Regions from separate parts of the Homo sapiens genome. Here region 1 is linked to region 2. The links come from fine-mapping of genetic effects on plasma protein levels. A gene starts in region 2. The other region holds a variant in brackets. All regions are shown on one strand. Distances are between the middles of the regions.

Region 1 (8,000 bases), 22 kb before region 2:
TAGTGAGACCCCATCTCTTAAAAAAATAAAGAGGCCTGGCGCAGTGGCTCACACCTGTAATCCCAATACTTTGGGAGGCCAAGGCGGGTGGATCACGAGGTCAGGAGAACAAGATCGAGACCATCCTGGCTAACACGGTGAAATCCCATCTCTACTAAAAATACAAAAAATGAGCCGGGCGTGGTGGCAGGCACCTGTAGTCCCAGCTACTTGGGAGGCTGAGGCAGGAGAATGGCATGAACCCAGGAGGCGGAGCTTGCAGTAAGCCGAGGTCGTGCCACTGCACTCCAGCCTGGGTGACAGAGCAAGATTCCGCCTCAAAAAAAAAATAAATAAATAAATAAAATAAAATAAAATAAATAAATAACACAAATTTAAAAATTAAAATAAGTAAATCAGGCTTCCTCACTGATCTGGTTTGGATCTGCATCCCCACCAAATCTCATGTCGAACTGTAGTCCCCAGTGTTGGAGGTGGGACTTAGTGGGAGGCGGTTGGATCATGGGGGTGGATTTCTCACAAATGGTTCTGCACCATCCCCTTGGTGCCATTCTTGTGATAGTGAGTGAGTTCTTGCAAGACCTGGTTGTTCAAAAGTGTGCAGCACTTCCCCGCTTGCTCTGTCTTGCTCCTGTTCCGGCCATGTGAAGTACTGCTCCCCCTTCACCTTCTGCCATGGTTGTAAGTTTCCTGAGGCCTCCCCAGAAGCCAAGCACACGCTGCCATGCTTCCGGTACAGCCTGCAGAACTGTGCATGAGCCAATTAAGCCACTTTTCTTATAAATTAGTTAGTCTCAGGTTTTTCTTTATTGCTGTTTGAGAACTGACTCATCCACTCATTACCCGTCTGCATTCTCCCCAACACAGCCTCAGTAACAAAAACCCACCATTATTGAGAACAACCACTACCTGCCAAGAAATGTAGCCTGTGGGCACCTAGGAATCTAGTGCTGTGGACTGGCAGTAGTTAAGGCTCCCAAGGTCAGGCTGGAGAGGAGGCCCAGGAATCCCTGACAGGCTCCCTTCCAGCCACAGTGGCCAACTTGTGCCATTCCTCTCACCCAGCCACCCCCTCCCTGCCCTCCTCTATGGTCCTCCTGTGCCCAGGAGCTCAGGGAGCCACCTGCTTCCCCCACAGCTCTCCAATAGCACCCACTGTCCATCCTTCTCCGGGACTTAGCATTCACCACCTTCCTCTGGTGGGTGCTTCTATTTTTATTTCTTGTGTTTTTTTTTTTCTCAGTGCCCTCACTTTAACAGTATGCTGGCTACTTCTTACTCAAGCAGCTCTGTGCTCAGTGCAGCCTCCTTGCTGGCAGAGCTACATTGCAAAGCACTAAAGGACACAGACAAGATCGCTGGGTGGCTGTTGGTGAGCTTTGAGGAACCGTGAAGGATGAGACAGGTGTTCCAGATCTGGAAACAAGCAAGGTGCTTCTGGGTTTCCCAGAAGTGGGCAGAGTATGTGAATCACAGATGCACCAGCCCAGGATCTAGTGTTGCCAGAGGACGGTTTGTGAGCACTTTAAGAAGGGAAGCAACAATTTCCATGGGTTCACTGAAAATGACTTGAGGATGGACCTCACTTCCCTGTTTTCTAAGTTTTTTTTAAAAAACAGCTTTACTGAGATATAATTAACATACCATAAAATTCACTGTACAGTGCATTAATTTTTAGTATATTCAGGTTGTGCCAACATCATTACCATGTAATTCCAGAACGTTTGCCTCACCCTAAAAAGAAACTGATACCCATTAGCAGTCATTCCCCACTCTCCCCTTGCCACCCCTATCCCCCAGCAACTACTAGCCTTTCTGTCTGTATGGATTTGCCTCTTGTGGACATTTTGTAGCCCAACAATATTCCACTGTATCAATATACCACACTTCGTTTCTTCACTCATCAGGTGATGGACATTTTGTTGTTTCCACCTTTTGGCTCTTATGAATAGTGTTGCTTTGAACGTTCATATACAAGTGTTTGGACATATATTTCCATTTTTTCGTGTATATACCCAAGATTGGATGCTGGGTCACATGCTTATTTAGTTGTGAAACGTTACTGTCAAGTTGATCTAACAGAAAACCACAGCTGACCTGATGTTACCACTCAGGGTGAGCAACGCCCTCTAGCAGGCAGGCTCTTATGGGGAAGAGAAGTATGGATACAATTAGGCGGACTGGCTGTTAGTTAAAGCCACCTGGAAAGGGTGCTGACTCTCAGATTCGCTGGTGACACAAAGTTGGGGCAGAATCTAGGCCCAAAAGATCTCAGCAAGCTGGTGTGATGTCCACAGATAAAATATAGCAAAGAAAAATGCAAGGTCCTGGCTGGGTGCAGTGGCTCATGCCTATAATCCCAGCACTTTGTGAGGCCGAGGTGGGTGGATCATCTGAGGTCAGGAGTTCGAGACCAGCCTGACCAACATGGTGAAACCCCGTCTCTACTAAAAATACAAAAAAATTAGCCAGGCATGGTGGCGCATGCCTGTAATCTCAGCTACTCAGGAGGCTGAGGCAGAAGAATCTGTTGAACCTGGGAGGCAGAGGTTGCAGTGAGCCGAGATCGCACCACTGCACTCCAGCCTGAGTGACAGAGTGAAACTCAGTCTCAAAAAAAAAAAAAAAAAAAGAAAAGAAAGAAAAATGCAAGGTCCTAAACAAAGAATTACCATAGGATCCAATGGAGTCTGGACACTAGTATTCTTTTTTTTTTTTTGAGATGGAGTTTCATTCTTGTTGCCCAGGCTGGAGTGCAGTGGTGCGATCTCAGCTCACTGCAACCTCCACCTCCCGGGTTCAAGTGATTCTCCTGCCTCAGGCCTCCCGAGTAGCTGGGATTACAGGCGCCCACCACCATGGCCGGCTAATTTTTTGTATTTTTAGTAGAGACAGGGTTTCATCATGTTGGCCAGGTGGGTCTCGAACTCCTGACCTCAGGTGATCCGCCTGCCTCGGTCTCCCAAAATGCAGGGATTACAGGCGTGAGCCACCATGCCTGGCTGACACTAGTATTCTTAGCAGCATTATTCACAGTCACCAAAAGGTAGAAACAACTCAAATGCCCATTGACAAAATGTGATCTATACAAACAATGGAATTTCATTCAGCAATGAAAGGGAAGTGAACTCTGACCCATGCTCACAGGCTACAACATGGGTGAACCTTGAAGACATTGTGCCAAGTGAAATAAGCCAGTCGCAAAAAGGGCACCTCATTGTATGAATTCACTTATCAGGTCCCTAGAGTAGTCAAAATCATCGAGACAGAAGTAGAATGGTGACTGTCAAGGGCTGGGGAGGTGAATGGGGAGTTAGTGTTGAATGGGGACAGAGTTTCAGTTTAGGAGGGTGAAGACATTCTGGAAATGGATGACAGTGATGGTTGCATAATAATGTCAATGTTGTTGCCACTGAACTCTATACTTAAAAATGGTTAAAAATGGTGAATTTTGCTGGGTGCAGTCAGGCTTGCCTGTTATCCCAGCACTCTGGCAGGCCCAGGCAGGAGAATCACTTGAGCCTAGGAGTTTCAGACCAGCCTGGGCAACAAAACAAGACCCCATCTCTACAAAAAAATTAAGAAAGTACCTGAATGTGGTGGCCCACATCTGCGGTCCCAGCTACTCGGGAGGCTGAAGGGGGAGGATCACTTGAGCACAAGAGTTTGAGGCTACAGTGAGCTGTGATCACTCCAGCCTAGGTGACAGCATGCGACCCTGTCTCAAACAAAACAAAACTGCTAAATTTCACATTATGTATATCTCACCACAATTTTTAAAAAATGCAAGGTACTGGCTGGGAGCAGTGGTGCATGCCTCCAATCCCAGCACTTTGGGAGGCTGAGGTGGGAGGACTGTTTGAGCCCAGGAGTTCAAGACAAGCCTGGGCAACATAGTGAGACCCTGTCTCTTCAAAAATATAAAAAAATTAGCAAGGCATAGTGGCATGTGCCTGTGGTTCCAGCTCCTCAGAAGGCTGAGGCAGGGGGATCATTTCAAGCCTGGGAGGTCGAGGCTGCAATGAGCTGTGCTCATACAACTGCACTCCAGCCTGGGTGACAGAGTGAGACTCTGTCCCAAAACAATTAAAAAAAAAAAAAAAAAGCAAGGTCCTAAAACTAAGACCCCCACAGACTGACTTTCCCAGCACAGGTTTTGAGAGAAATGGCGCTCACTTGCAACTGTGACCACACCTTCAGGGGACTGGGACCCTACAGTGAGTCAGGGAGGCTGCCAGAAAACTCATGGGCGAAATAAATCATAGTGGCAAGTACAAAAAGTCCTGAATCCTGAATGCAAGGGCCACAGTCCTACCCACCTCATCATGGTCTGCCCCACTCCACACAGACCTCACACTTCAGGGAGGCCATGGGCCTGGTCAGTGGGAAGCAGCCAAGAAGACGAATGGACTTAAGACCCCACACAGGCCGGGCACGGTGGCTCACGCCTGTAATCCCAGCACTTTGGGAGGCCGAGGTGGGTGGATCACGCGGTCAGGAGATCAAGACCATCCTGGCTAACACAGTGAAACCCCATCTCTACTAAAAATACAAAAAAAGAGCCGGGCATGGTGGCAGGCGCCTGTAGTCCCAGCTACTCGGGAAGCTGAGGCAGGAGAATGGCGTGAACCCAGGAGGCGGAGCTTGCAGTAAGCCGAGGTC[G/A]TGCCACTGCACTCCAGCCTGGGTGACAGAGCAAGATTCCGACTCAAAAAAAAAAAAAAAAAAAAAAGACCCCACACAAGGACAGGACAGGGGTGGAAGGAACAAGTGGGATCTGGCAAAGAGCTGCCTTCAGATGTTGCCCAGGGGCCCAAAGGCTGCCAGAACTGGGCTCTGTGCATGGAAATGGGTGAGACAGACTTTAGCTAAGTGCAAGGAAGTGCCTTCTGGCAAAACGGCCAACTGGAACTAGACCTGAGAAGTAAAGAGAGCTTGCACAAACCGGCTGGGAGGGACAGTCTCTGTTACACGGAGTCCCAGTCAAAGTTAACAGGTTCAGTGTGGAACTTTCCAGAGCCTTCCGTATGTGTCCAAAACTTACAAGAGGGAAACAGAGCACACAGACTCATCTGACCACACAGTCCTCTGCATTTGGGGATTTTCTGTTGAGAAGACGTACCTTGGCAATGCGGTTTTTCAAGGAAACCCTCTGAGAAGCACTTCTCTGGTCAAGTCAGCCTTAGAAGGGGTGGCCCAGTTAAATGACCACTAAGGGCAGGTACAGTGGCTTGAACCTGTAATCCTAGCTACTCCAGAGGCTGAGGCAGGAGGACTGCTTGAGCCCAGCAGGTCAAGTCCAGCCTGGGCAACACAGTGAGATCTATCTCTTAAAAAAGAAAAACATGACCACTAAGGTGCCTTCAGTGCCAAGAGTCTGGATAAATGTCTTCTGCCCACCGCTCACTGCCCAGCACACATAGCGTGTTCCAACAGAATTCGCAGAACAGGCTGAAGTGATCAATGTGGTGCATATGACACGCCAATCATTTGGGACATGAACAAAGAGTGAGCAGAAAGGAAGGAGAGTGAAGCGAGTAAGGGAGGAACTGAAAAGCCTGGGTGTAAGGAGACAGCAGCGCCCAGGAACAGGAGACAAACTGACTAGGCAGATGGGAGGATAAGTAAAGGTCAGGGAATAGGCAGGAATCTGTCCTCAGCTGGGAGAGGAAGCACCAGGGAGACGGCTTCCCAGCCCACATAAGCCGGAGCTAGCGCAGCCTCCCGCAGACACAGAGGGGCTGTCACATGTGAGGGACAAGAGGCTCTCCCCAACACAGGGAGGGGGATGAGAAAAGCCATCCTCTGGCAGGGCACGGTGGCTCACGCCTGTAATCCCAGCACTTTGGGAGGCTGAGATGGGAGGGTCAACTGAGGTCAGGAGCTCAAGACCAGCCTGGCCAACATGGCGAAACCCTGTCTCTACTAAAAATACAAAAAACTAGCCTGGTGGGGTGGCGGATACCCACACCTGTAATCCCAGCTACTCAGGAGGCTGAGGCAGGAGAATTGCTTGAACCCAGAAGGTGGAGGTAGCAGTGAGCCAAGATTGTGCCACTGCACTCCACCCTGGGTGACAGAGTGAGACTCTGTCTCAAAAAAAAAAAAAAAAAAAAAAGAAAGAAAGAAAAGAAAAGTCATCCTTTTACCTCTGGGGTTCGAACTGAGAGGAGTCTAGAAGACTTGGGAAACCTTCCTTTCAGGCCCCAAAGCCTGCAACGTTCTCCAGGCCTAACAAAAAAGGTCAAATATGTCAGAAAAGACCTTGGCAAGCTTAGGAAATATTGAAGGAATTCCAACTTCTTTCTTTTCTTTTTTTTTTTTTTTTGAGATGGAGTCTCGCTCTGTCGCCCAGGCTGGAGTGCAGTGGTGCGATCTCAGCTCACTGCAACTTCTGCCTCCCGGGTTCAAGTGATTCTCATGCATCAGCCTCCCGAGTAGCTGGGATTACAGGTGCCCACCACCACACCCACCTAATTTCTGTATTTTTAGTAGAGACAGGGTTTCTCCATGTTGGTCAGGCTGGTCTCGAACTCCTGACCTCAGGTGATCTGCCTGCCTCGGTCTCCCAAAGTGCTGGGATTACAGGCCTGAGCCACCGGGCCTGGCCCCAACTTCTTTAAATGGGCAAGAAAATTTGGTTCAATTCCTTTGGAGAGAATGTGCTGGGAAACAGAAGCCCACTAGCCCAGTGGGCAAGTCCCATAGAAGGAAAAGGGCCATTGGTGTTCTGCTGAGAGCCACCAGCTGGGTACAGGAATAAAGTGAGTGTGGAGATATGACCATGTAATGTGGAGGGGAGAAGGGCAGGAGAGAAAGGAATCCTGAGCCAACCACCCCCTTCAATCCCAGCTGCTCAGTCAGGGCTGCTTTCTTTTGTTCCTGCTGGAAGCATCAGCCAAGTTCCCTTTATTTAAGTCCTGGCAGGACTCTAAAGCTACCACAGGCCGGGAGCGGTGGCTCATGCCCGTAATCCCAGCACTTTGGGAGGCCGAGGTGGGCGGATCACTTGAGGTCAGGAGTTGAAGACCACCTGGCCAACGTGGTGAATCCCCATCTCTACGAAAAATACAAAAATTAGCTGGACCTGGTGGCGCGTGCCTGTAATCCCAGCTACTTGAGAGGCTGAGGCAGCAGAATTGCTTGAACCTGGGAGGTGGAGGTTGTGGTGAGCCAAGATCATGCCACTGCACTCCAGCCTGGGCGACAGAGTGAGACTCCATCTTGAAAAAAGAAAAAACCAGCTGGGCACAGTGGCTCATGCCTGTAATCCTAGCATTTTGGGAGGCCTAGGCGGGTGGATCACCTGAGGTCAGGAGTTTGAGACCAGCTGGCCAACATGGCAAAACCCTGTCTCTAATAAAAATACAAAAATTAGCCGGGCGTGGTGGTGGGTGGCTATAATCCTAGCTACTCAGGAGGCTGAGGCAGAAGAAACTCTTGAACCCAGGGGACAGAGGTTGCAGTGAGCCGAGATTACACCACTTCACTCTAGCCTGGGCAAAGTGTGAAACTCCGTCTCAAAAAAAGAAAAAACCAACCACCCCACCAAACAAAAAGTATAATAAAAAGAAAAAAAATAATAAAGCTACAACATCAGTGGCACCCCCTCTCCTATGGAGCCAGGATATATACACCAGAAACCTATCTTTCTCTCTTCAAAGTGACCCTTGGAGGGTTTGTCTAGTCACTTCCTTTAGGGCCTGGATTTGCAAGACAGGCAGGAAAAACCTCACATCTTCATCATCTCACTATTCTATCTGCTTCTCTCAAAATGCCTGATGTCTACCTAGGGAACTGCACACAGCAGGGTTCCAAACATGTAGTAACTAAAACTGGTCGGCTTTGCAGTTCACGAGGCATTGTCTCATGTACTGATCCTTTTGATCTTCACAACAGTCCTGTGAAGAATTAATCACAGCCGCCTGCCTTTATGGTTGCCTGAGAGCTTAGAAGTGCCAGGCACTGTCCTAAATTACCTCACTGAACACAGCAGTACTGTG
Region 2 (8,000 bases):
AGCCTCACCTTTTTGGGTTTCACTGGTGTCTTGGTAACGCGGGACTCTGGCACTGGCAGGACATCCATGACATCACCGTTTCAGATTCTTAAGAAAAAGACAACTTTCCCATAGCCAAATGTTCCTCTTCCCACCCTCTCTTTGGGGAATTAAAACACAAGCTTTTAGTATGCTGCAAAAACCTTGCGGCTGCATTTTAAGATGTTGCATTGGGGTCCTGCCTTTAAGTGGCTGCCCTCATTGCCTCCCTTTGAAAGAGGCCTCCAGATAAGTCCAGGGTAATTAAAATTTCCTGTCTAACCTTGACTGCTCCACCAGCTCACGTTACAGCCACGGATACACGCTGTAGAGTCAGTTTCTTCTGGGCCTTCTCATTCTTTTAAAATCAGGCCACTATTCTCTTGGCTCAGGCTATCCAGTAACAGGCTTGGAAATGGAGAGGGAACTTTCTCTGGCCGGGCTGATGGTGCCTCTGGCTTCCCACACTCATTAGAAAACACTCTTTCTTCTACAACACACCATTTAGGAGCCAGCCTCATTTGTTAGGTCCTAAGGACTCACAAAGGACACCACTCCAAGCACCCAACAAACTCAGAGGCTGGGAAGGATCCAGTTTTTTTAAGCCTTGAAAATGTAAGAAATCCCTAAGCCAAATACTTTTAAATAGGAAAATCAAATTTAAACGATCAAAGCATGTCTCCCAGTATCTGTATGAATCTTTCTAGCCCCAAACAAAAAGACAGGGTGTACTTTGTACTGGTCTAATCAGGTTATATACTGCAAGGGGCCCAACGAACTAAGGCGACATCAGAACATGAATCTAGAAACTGCTTAAAAGTGAAATTCTTAAGCCAGGCGCGGTGGCTCACGCCTGTAATCCCAGCGTTTTGGGAGGCTGAGGCGGGTGGATCATTTGAGGTCAGGGGTTCAAGACCAGCCTGGCCAACATGGTGAAACCCCATCTCTACTAAAAATACAAAAATTACCTGGGCATGGTGGTGCGCGCCTGTAGTCCTAGCTACTCGGGAGGCTGAGGCAAGAGAATGGCATGAACCCAAGAGGTGGAGCTTGCAGCGAGCCAAGATCGCACCACTGCACTCCAGCCTGGGCAATGGAGTGAGACTCCATCTCAAAAAAAAAAAAAAAAAAGGAAGGCCATGTGAAGACACAGAAACACACACAGGGAGAGCACCAGGTGCTCAGGGTGGCAGAGATTACGGTGATGCGCCCATACCACAAGAAATACCAAGAATTCTGGCAACCACCAGAAGCCAGGAAACAGGCACAGAAGGAGTCTTCGCTGGCGCCTCAAGGGCAGCACAGCCCGGCTGACACGTTGGTTTCAGACTTGTCAGACTTCTGATTTCCAGAACTATGAGAGGATATACTTCTGTTGTTTTATGCTACCCACTTTGTGGCATTTCATTCAGGCAGCTCTAAGAAACAAACGACCTCACCCAGCAGCAGAGGAGCTAACGAGTTCCTTCCGCAGAACCCGGAAGGGCAAAGCACACAGTCCCACGGGGACCCGGAACTCACCAAGAGGCCAGGTCACCACTCCACAGCTCAAACTGTGGGCTAAATCAGGTTCAAAAGATAAAGTGGACTCAGCAAAGTGAATTATTAAACAAAAAAGGACAACACAAAATGTGTACTTTTTTTATTTTTTTGAGACGGAGTCGCACTCTGTTGCCCAGGCTAGAGTGCAATGGCGTGATCTCGGCTCACTGCAACCTCCACCTCCCAGGTTCAAGCGATTCTCCTGCCTCAGCCTCCTGAGTAGCTGGATTACAGGCGTGTGGCACCATGCCTGGCTAATTTTTGTATTTTTAGTAGAGACGGGGTTTCACCACGTTGATCAGGCTGGCCTCGAACTCCTGACCTCATGATCCGCCTGCCTCAGCCTCCCAAAGTGCTGCGATTACAGGTGTGAGCCACCACACCCAGCCAAATGTGCACATTTACCCAAATTATGGATATGTGATAATCTAAAAATTAGGGGCTAAAATCCACCTGGCCTTCACCATAGGCTGAAACATGGAGCTAAATGCATCACATACATGAATTAATTTAATCCCCACAATAACCCCACATGGCAGGTCCTGTGCTTTCCCATTTGACAGAAGGGAAAACTGATGGCACAGAGCTTTTAAATAAGCTGCCCAAGGAACCTTCCAGGGAGCAAGTGGTGGGGCTGGGGTTTGAACCCAGGAAGCCTGCCTCCAAGTGCTCACTCTTCACAGCCTCACAAGACTGCTGCTGCCATGAGTAAAATCTGGAAGGTAATCCAATAGAAAACAAATTGGTGTGTTACATTTTCTTTAGTGTTTTTAACATTCTTATGTTATTAATTTAAGCTGTTGTGGCCATACCACCACCACCAAGGATGAGCCATCTGAGAACGGGGACAACGCAGAGAGGAAGGTGGCTTAACAAAAAGAGAAACTAAGCACTGATGGCAGCACCTAAGCGCCTAGATCCAGCCACACCTGAAGCTAGTGATGGCTTTTTGGTTTCCTCAGCCAAATTATTCTCGTTTTGTTTATGCCAATTTTGGTTGCAAGTGACAGAAAACTCAACCTAGAAAGAAATACCAAGTACTGGTTGAACTGTTAGCTCTGCTGGGATCCCAGGCCACACACTGCCTTCCCCTTGGCTTTTTTTTTTTCCCCTTGAGACAGAATCTCCCTCTGTCACCCTGGCTGGAGTGCAATGGTGTGATCTCTGCTCACTGCAACCTTTGCCTCCCAGGTTCAAGCAATTCTCCCACCTCAGCCTCCCGAGTAGCTGGGACTACAGGCCCGCGCCACCACTCCCGGCTAATTCTTGGATTTTTAGTAGAGATGGGGTTTCACCATGTTGGCCAGGCTGGTCTTGAACTCCTGACCCCAGGTGATCCGCCTGCCTCGTCCTCCCAGAGTGCTGGGATTACAGCCGTAAGCCACTGTGCCCGGCTCCCCTTTGCGTGATCCTGGTCCAGTACCTGTTTGCTCACAGATGCCACCTTGCTTCGTCTCCCAAGACCCTCTGAGCATATGGACTCTTTTTATCACTCTTAGGTAGTCAACTACAAGTTGATCTTTCCAAAGATTGTTTTATAGGAAAAACAAAAGAAGCCTGAGTGGCCACAAGAAAACTTGAAGATAAAGGTCCCTCCCCAAGATCCCCTGAATCCAGCTGGACTGGGAGGAACTGGTGGGGTCTGGGAGCAGCCCGGCCAGGGCAGTCTTCCCATGAAAGGCATTACCCCAGAGAAATCAAAGGGCTCCAACAAACCTTGCCTCACCCATTGCTTTTCCATTTTCGCCCCAGCCGCATTCTTTAGCGCACTGGGCCTTCCTGAACTGCCCAAACTAGACCCAGAAAACGCCACAGATCAGTGCCTGGAAGCCAGACAAAGAAACCAGGGTGTCAGGGAGGCAGAGGAGGCGGAGGCTCCCAAGTGCCGGCTCTGCAAACCTCCATGCAGGGGCAGCGGAGGCTCAGGCGACGCAGCGCCAGTCACAGCGCCTTTAAATAGAACCTCCACGCGGAGGGCAAACACATTCCATGCGCTTTTAAAAACGCCCAAGCATGACCTGGCCGGCGGCCTCAGCTCCCCCAGGCATTTTTCCGGTCTCGGCTCAATTCTGGAAATATTAATAGCTCGGTTAAGAGCTTACCGGGTGCAAAATACTTTTCGGCCTTAAAAGGCAGGGACTGTTACTGCTCCCACTCTCCAGATGAGGAAACTGAGATCCCCGGAGGTTCCAGGCGACGAGGTGGACTAGTGGGTCTCTATCGCCTGCCTCTGGCTCAGTGTCTCCCCAGGTGAGCGGCTCCCCGCGCACTGGGGCTCACAGAGCAGGACCGCAACGAGCCCCCGCCGGACCGGTGCCAGCGGCCAAGTTCGGTTCCCACAACCGCCCCCCCTCCCCGCGCCCCCAGGAGGCTCCCGGGCCGCGCCTGCTCCAGGAAAGTCCTGAATCTCTTACAACGACTTTACCAAACTCCCCGTTCTCGGCCTCCGCTCATTCATCAGACCCCGCGCTGCAGCCAAGGATTAACTTTCCCCTTTTGTTTTAAAAGATAAAAGGCCAACAGGGGCTAATTTTTCCCTTGGGGGGATACAGTGAAAGCTGGCAGGTGAGGCGCGGCGACGGCTCCCTTTCCTAGAAGTTGCTTTCGGAGCAAATCTCCGGACTGGCGGGCGGAGGGGGCGGGACCAGTGGTCGGGGTTGGGGGACCTGGAACTCGGGCCCGGCAGCCGCCGAGAACTTTTGGGCTCCGTCCCGGAGAGCTCCTGCTCCTGGTGTCCCCCCTCTTCGGCCCCGTCCCCCACCGCGCCGAGATAGACCCGAGCACGCAAGATCTGGCTGCGTTGGGCCAAATGCTACCTGCACCCCGGGACCCCTCCCCACACAAACAGGGCCCGGGACTTCGGACCAGAAAGCCCTCCCGCTCCCTCCCTGGTCCCGGGGGCGAAGGGCGCGCAGCGGGAGCTCACAGTTTGAACATGCTCTCCAGGTCCTTGATGAGGCGGCGGCTGAACTCCGGGAACTCCGTGTAGGGGTTGAAGACCCTGCAGCGCCGGGGCCGCGCAGCGCCCTCGTTGATGTCCAGCCGCCGGCTCAGCTGGGCGCTCAGCTCCGCGTCGGCGCTGGCCGTGGGCGCACGGGCGGGAGGCTCGGGCTCGGGCTTGGGCTCCGGGGCTGGGGCGCCGAGGGGAGCCAGCTGGGGGCCACTCTCCTCGGCCTCCTCGCGCCGCAGCCGGCGCTCCAGCTTGCACGCCAGCTCCTCACTGGCCATGGCGGCGGATCGCAGGACGCGGGAACGCGGGGACGCGGGACGGGACGCAGGGAGCTGGCGGGCGGCGCGCTCCTCGCAGGCTCGAGGCTCTACAACACTCCGCCGAGGCGGCGGGGACCCGGCGGTTGGGAGGGTCTGAGGACGGACTGGCGGGCGGGGCGGTCGGGGCGGAGCTGCGGCTTTAAGGAGGCGCCAGGGCTCAGCGACTGCCAGCCTGGTGGGAGGAGGCCGCCGGTGTCTGGGTGTCTGCGCGTCCCGGAGACCCCGACCTGCTTCCTCTCCCCGCGGCTCCGGGCGGGAGGCTGACCGTCCCCCCGGGACCAGGCAGGGACCCTCGGATCAACTCCGACCTTGCTGCCCCTGTCAGCTCCGGGGAAAACCGTAGCGGGAAAAAGCGTCTCGACCGTTCAGACGGTGCCTTTCTTGTCCCCCAGAAGTAACCCGACTGGAAGCGCTCGCGGCCCGGGACAGGCTGGGTGGGGGAGGCGAGCGCCCCCGAGCGACACCCACGCGTCCCCCGCGTCTGGGAGTGGTGCCCACCCTCCCCGGGGTCAGGGAGTGGGAGGCGCCCGCCCGGAGCGTGGGGCGGGGGAGCTGCTTTTCAAACACTCATTGGAACGAAATGTTTCCAAAACATGCTAAAAATACTAAAAACAAATAAGCAAACAAAAAAGAGAGAGAGCAAACGAGCAGAAAAAACTCCCGTTTTCCCTAGAGGCAGGAAAGCAGCGTAGCTTCAGGGACTCGGGTTTTTTTGCGTGAAACGCACAAGAAAAGAGAAGAAACCTGGCGCGGAGACTCACATCCGCAATCCCAACACTTAGGTGTTGGTGGCAGGATCTTTTGAGCCCAGGAGTTCGAGACCAGACTGGGCAACATAGTTAGACTGTCTCTACAAAAACTTTTAAAAAATCAGCCAGGCATAGTGGCGCTCGTCTGTAGTCCCAGCTACTCAGGAGGCTGAAGTAGGAGGATGGCTTGAGCCCGGGAGGTCGAGGCTGCAACGAGCCATGGTCAGGCCACTGCACTCCAGCCTGGGCGACAGAGTGAGACCCTGGCTCTAAAAATAAACGAAGAAGAAGGAGGGAGAGGGGGAGGAAAAAAGAAAGGAAAGAAGGAAAAGAAGCTTGAAAATTAAATCAGCATTTTTAACAAGAGGGTAAAAACAAATACAGTCGTCATTCTCCCCAAGGAAGGCTGATGCCGCTGTTACATCAGCCAGGCGTTGAGAATCTTGTAAACACGGGTCTGTCCCCACTTGAGAACGACGCTGCTCTGACCCACCATGGGCTGATGACTGGGGCAGGTCAGTGACCCCGCTGGACTATGGTTGTCTGAGACCCAGGGACCAGCCTTTGGCATGCGAGTGCAGGGCATGCGGGGGACCTGGGTTAAAATGTTATTTTTAAAAAGTTATAAAGGAAAATACGTTTTTTAAAGAAAAGTATAAAAATCTTTAACATTCCTACTGAACAACTTGACTTGGTACAGAGAATACGGGTTTTACATATACAATGGCAACCCTGCAAATAGATCACGGGGCGCTACACTTCCTGACCTGGTGGTGGTGACTAGAAGGTTGGCTTTGTTGTCACATCTGTTTTGACCACTTTATGTGACACATTTCAGAGAAATAAGGTCAAAAATTTTGTGTAATTAAACTTTTTTTAATTTTATATTTTAAAAACTTTTTTTTTTTTTGAGATGGAGTTTCATTCTTGTTTCCCAGGCTGGAGTGCAATGGCATGATCTCGGCTCACTGCAGTCCCTGCCTCCTGGGTTCAAGTGATTCCCCTGCCTCAGCCTCCTGAGTAGCTGGGATTACAGGCGCCCACCACTGCACCTGGCTAATTTTTTGTATTTTTAGTAGAGACAGGGTTTCTCCATGTTGGCTAGGCTGGTTGTGAACTCCTAGCCTCAGACGATCCTCCCACCTCGGCCTCCCGAAGTGCTGGGATTACAGGCATGAGCCACCACACCCAGCTGGTTTTGTTTTTGTTTTTTTTTTTTTTTAATGTTCTTATTCCATCGAGCTCTCCTCAAGAAAGAAAAAGTTCAAAATTCTTAATAGTCTCCATCAACAAGAAACTCTGGGGCTGGGCGCGGTGGCTCACACCTGTAATCCCAGCACTTTGGGAGGCAGAGGCAGACGCATCACTTGAGCCCAGGAGTTTGAGACCAGCTTGGGCAACATGGCAAAACCTTGTGTACAAAAAAAGATAAAATAAAAAATAAAAATAAAATAAAAAACAACTAGCCAGGTGTGGTAGTATGCACCTGTAGTCCCAGCTATTTGGGATCACTTGGGCCCGGGAGGTGGAGGCTGCAGTGAGCCATGATCATGCCACTGCACTCTAGCCTGGGTGGTAGAGTAAGACCTGTCTGAGAGAGAGAGAGAGACAGAGAGAGAGAGAGAGAAAGAAAGAGAGAGAGAGAGAGAGAAACTTTGCATGAGTAGGTAATACAATTTTTTTTTTAAGACGGAGTTTTGCTCTTGTTGCCCAGGCTGAAGTGCAGTGGTGCGATCTCGGCTCACTGCAACCTCTGCCTCCCAGGTTCAAGCGATTCACCTGCCTCAGCCTCCCAAGTAGCTGGGATTACAGGCACCCACCACCAAGCCCAGCTAATATTTTATATTTTTAGTAGAGACGGGGTTTCACCATGTTGGCCAGGCTGGTTTTGAACTCCTGGCCCCAAGGAATCCACCTGTCTTGGCTTCCCAAAGTGCTAGGATTACAGGCATGAGCTACTGTGCCCGGCCAGTAATAGAATTTTTAAACCATTTTTTACATGCTGAAATTTACAACAGTTAGTGTTAAAAAAATCTAACAGCTCTTTTTATTTATGAATATAATGTTGAAAATTTTTTAAATTAAAAATGACTTTTTTTCTTTTCTTTCTTTCTTTTTTTTTTTTTTTTAATAGAGATGAGATCTCTCTATGTTGCCCAGGCAGGTCTTGAACTCCTGGGCTCAATTGATCCTATTTGCCTAGGCCTCCCAAAGTGCTGGGATTACAGGGGTGAGCCACGGTGCCCAGCCTTGAAAATTCTGAAATTAATGGGAGTGGATTGTGAACAAAATTTCACTTTTTCATTGAAGTGTTTCCAAATGAGGGAGTGCTTTTAGATAATGCGCTTGCATACTGTGAGCAGTCACCTGGTGCCTCTCAAAAGGCACATCATCTGCAAGGGGCAAAGATTGAGGGCTGTG

Alleles and levels. Positions count from the first base shown, and alleles are read on the strand shown. Strength reflects both the effect of a copy and how common the allele is.
For the plasma level of the protein whose gene starts at base 4,889 in region 2, allele G in region 1 goes with a lower level than allele A (moderate association).

What was found. PIP is the posterior inclusion probability: the model's chance that the variant is causal. The UK Biobank Pharma Proteomics Project read protein levels with antibody pairs (Olink). The fine-mapping took linkage between variants from a reference panel, not from the people measured, so its PIPs are less certain.
Region 1: its variant is fine-mapped to the plasma level of the EFHD1 protein (UK Biobank, PIP above 0.99).

The regions. Positions count from the first base shown.
Region 1 is chr2:232,652,532-232,660,531 of GRCh38, reverse strand. All of the region lies in intron 1 of EFHD1 (EF-hand domain family member D1), which reads right to left. Among named protein-coding and RNA genes, the nearest start is that of EFHD1, 23 kb to the right of the region's middle. The variant G/A (reference allele first, on the strand shown) is at 4,663.
Region 2 is chr2:232,630,493-232,638,492 of GRCh38, reverse strand. It overlaps EFHD1 (EF-hand domain family member D1), which reads right to left and starts at 4,889. Exons shown (of 4, transcript NM_025202.4): 1 at 4,487-4,889. The coding sequence starts at 4,788. RefSeq lists silencers at 4,420-4,714, 4,792-4,851.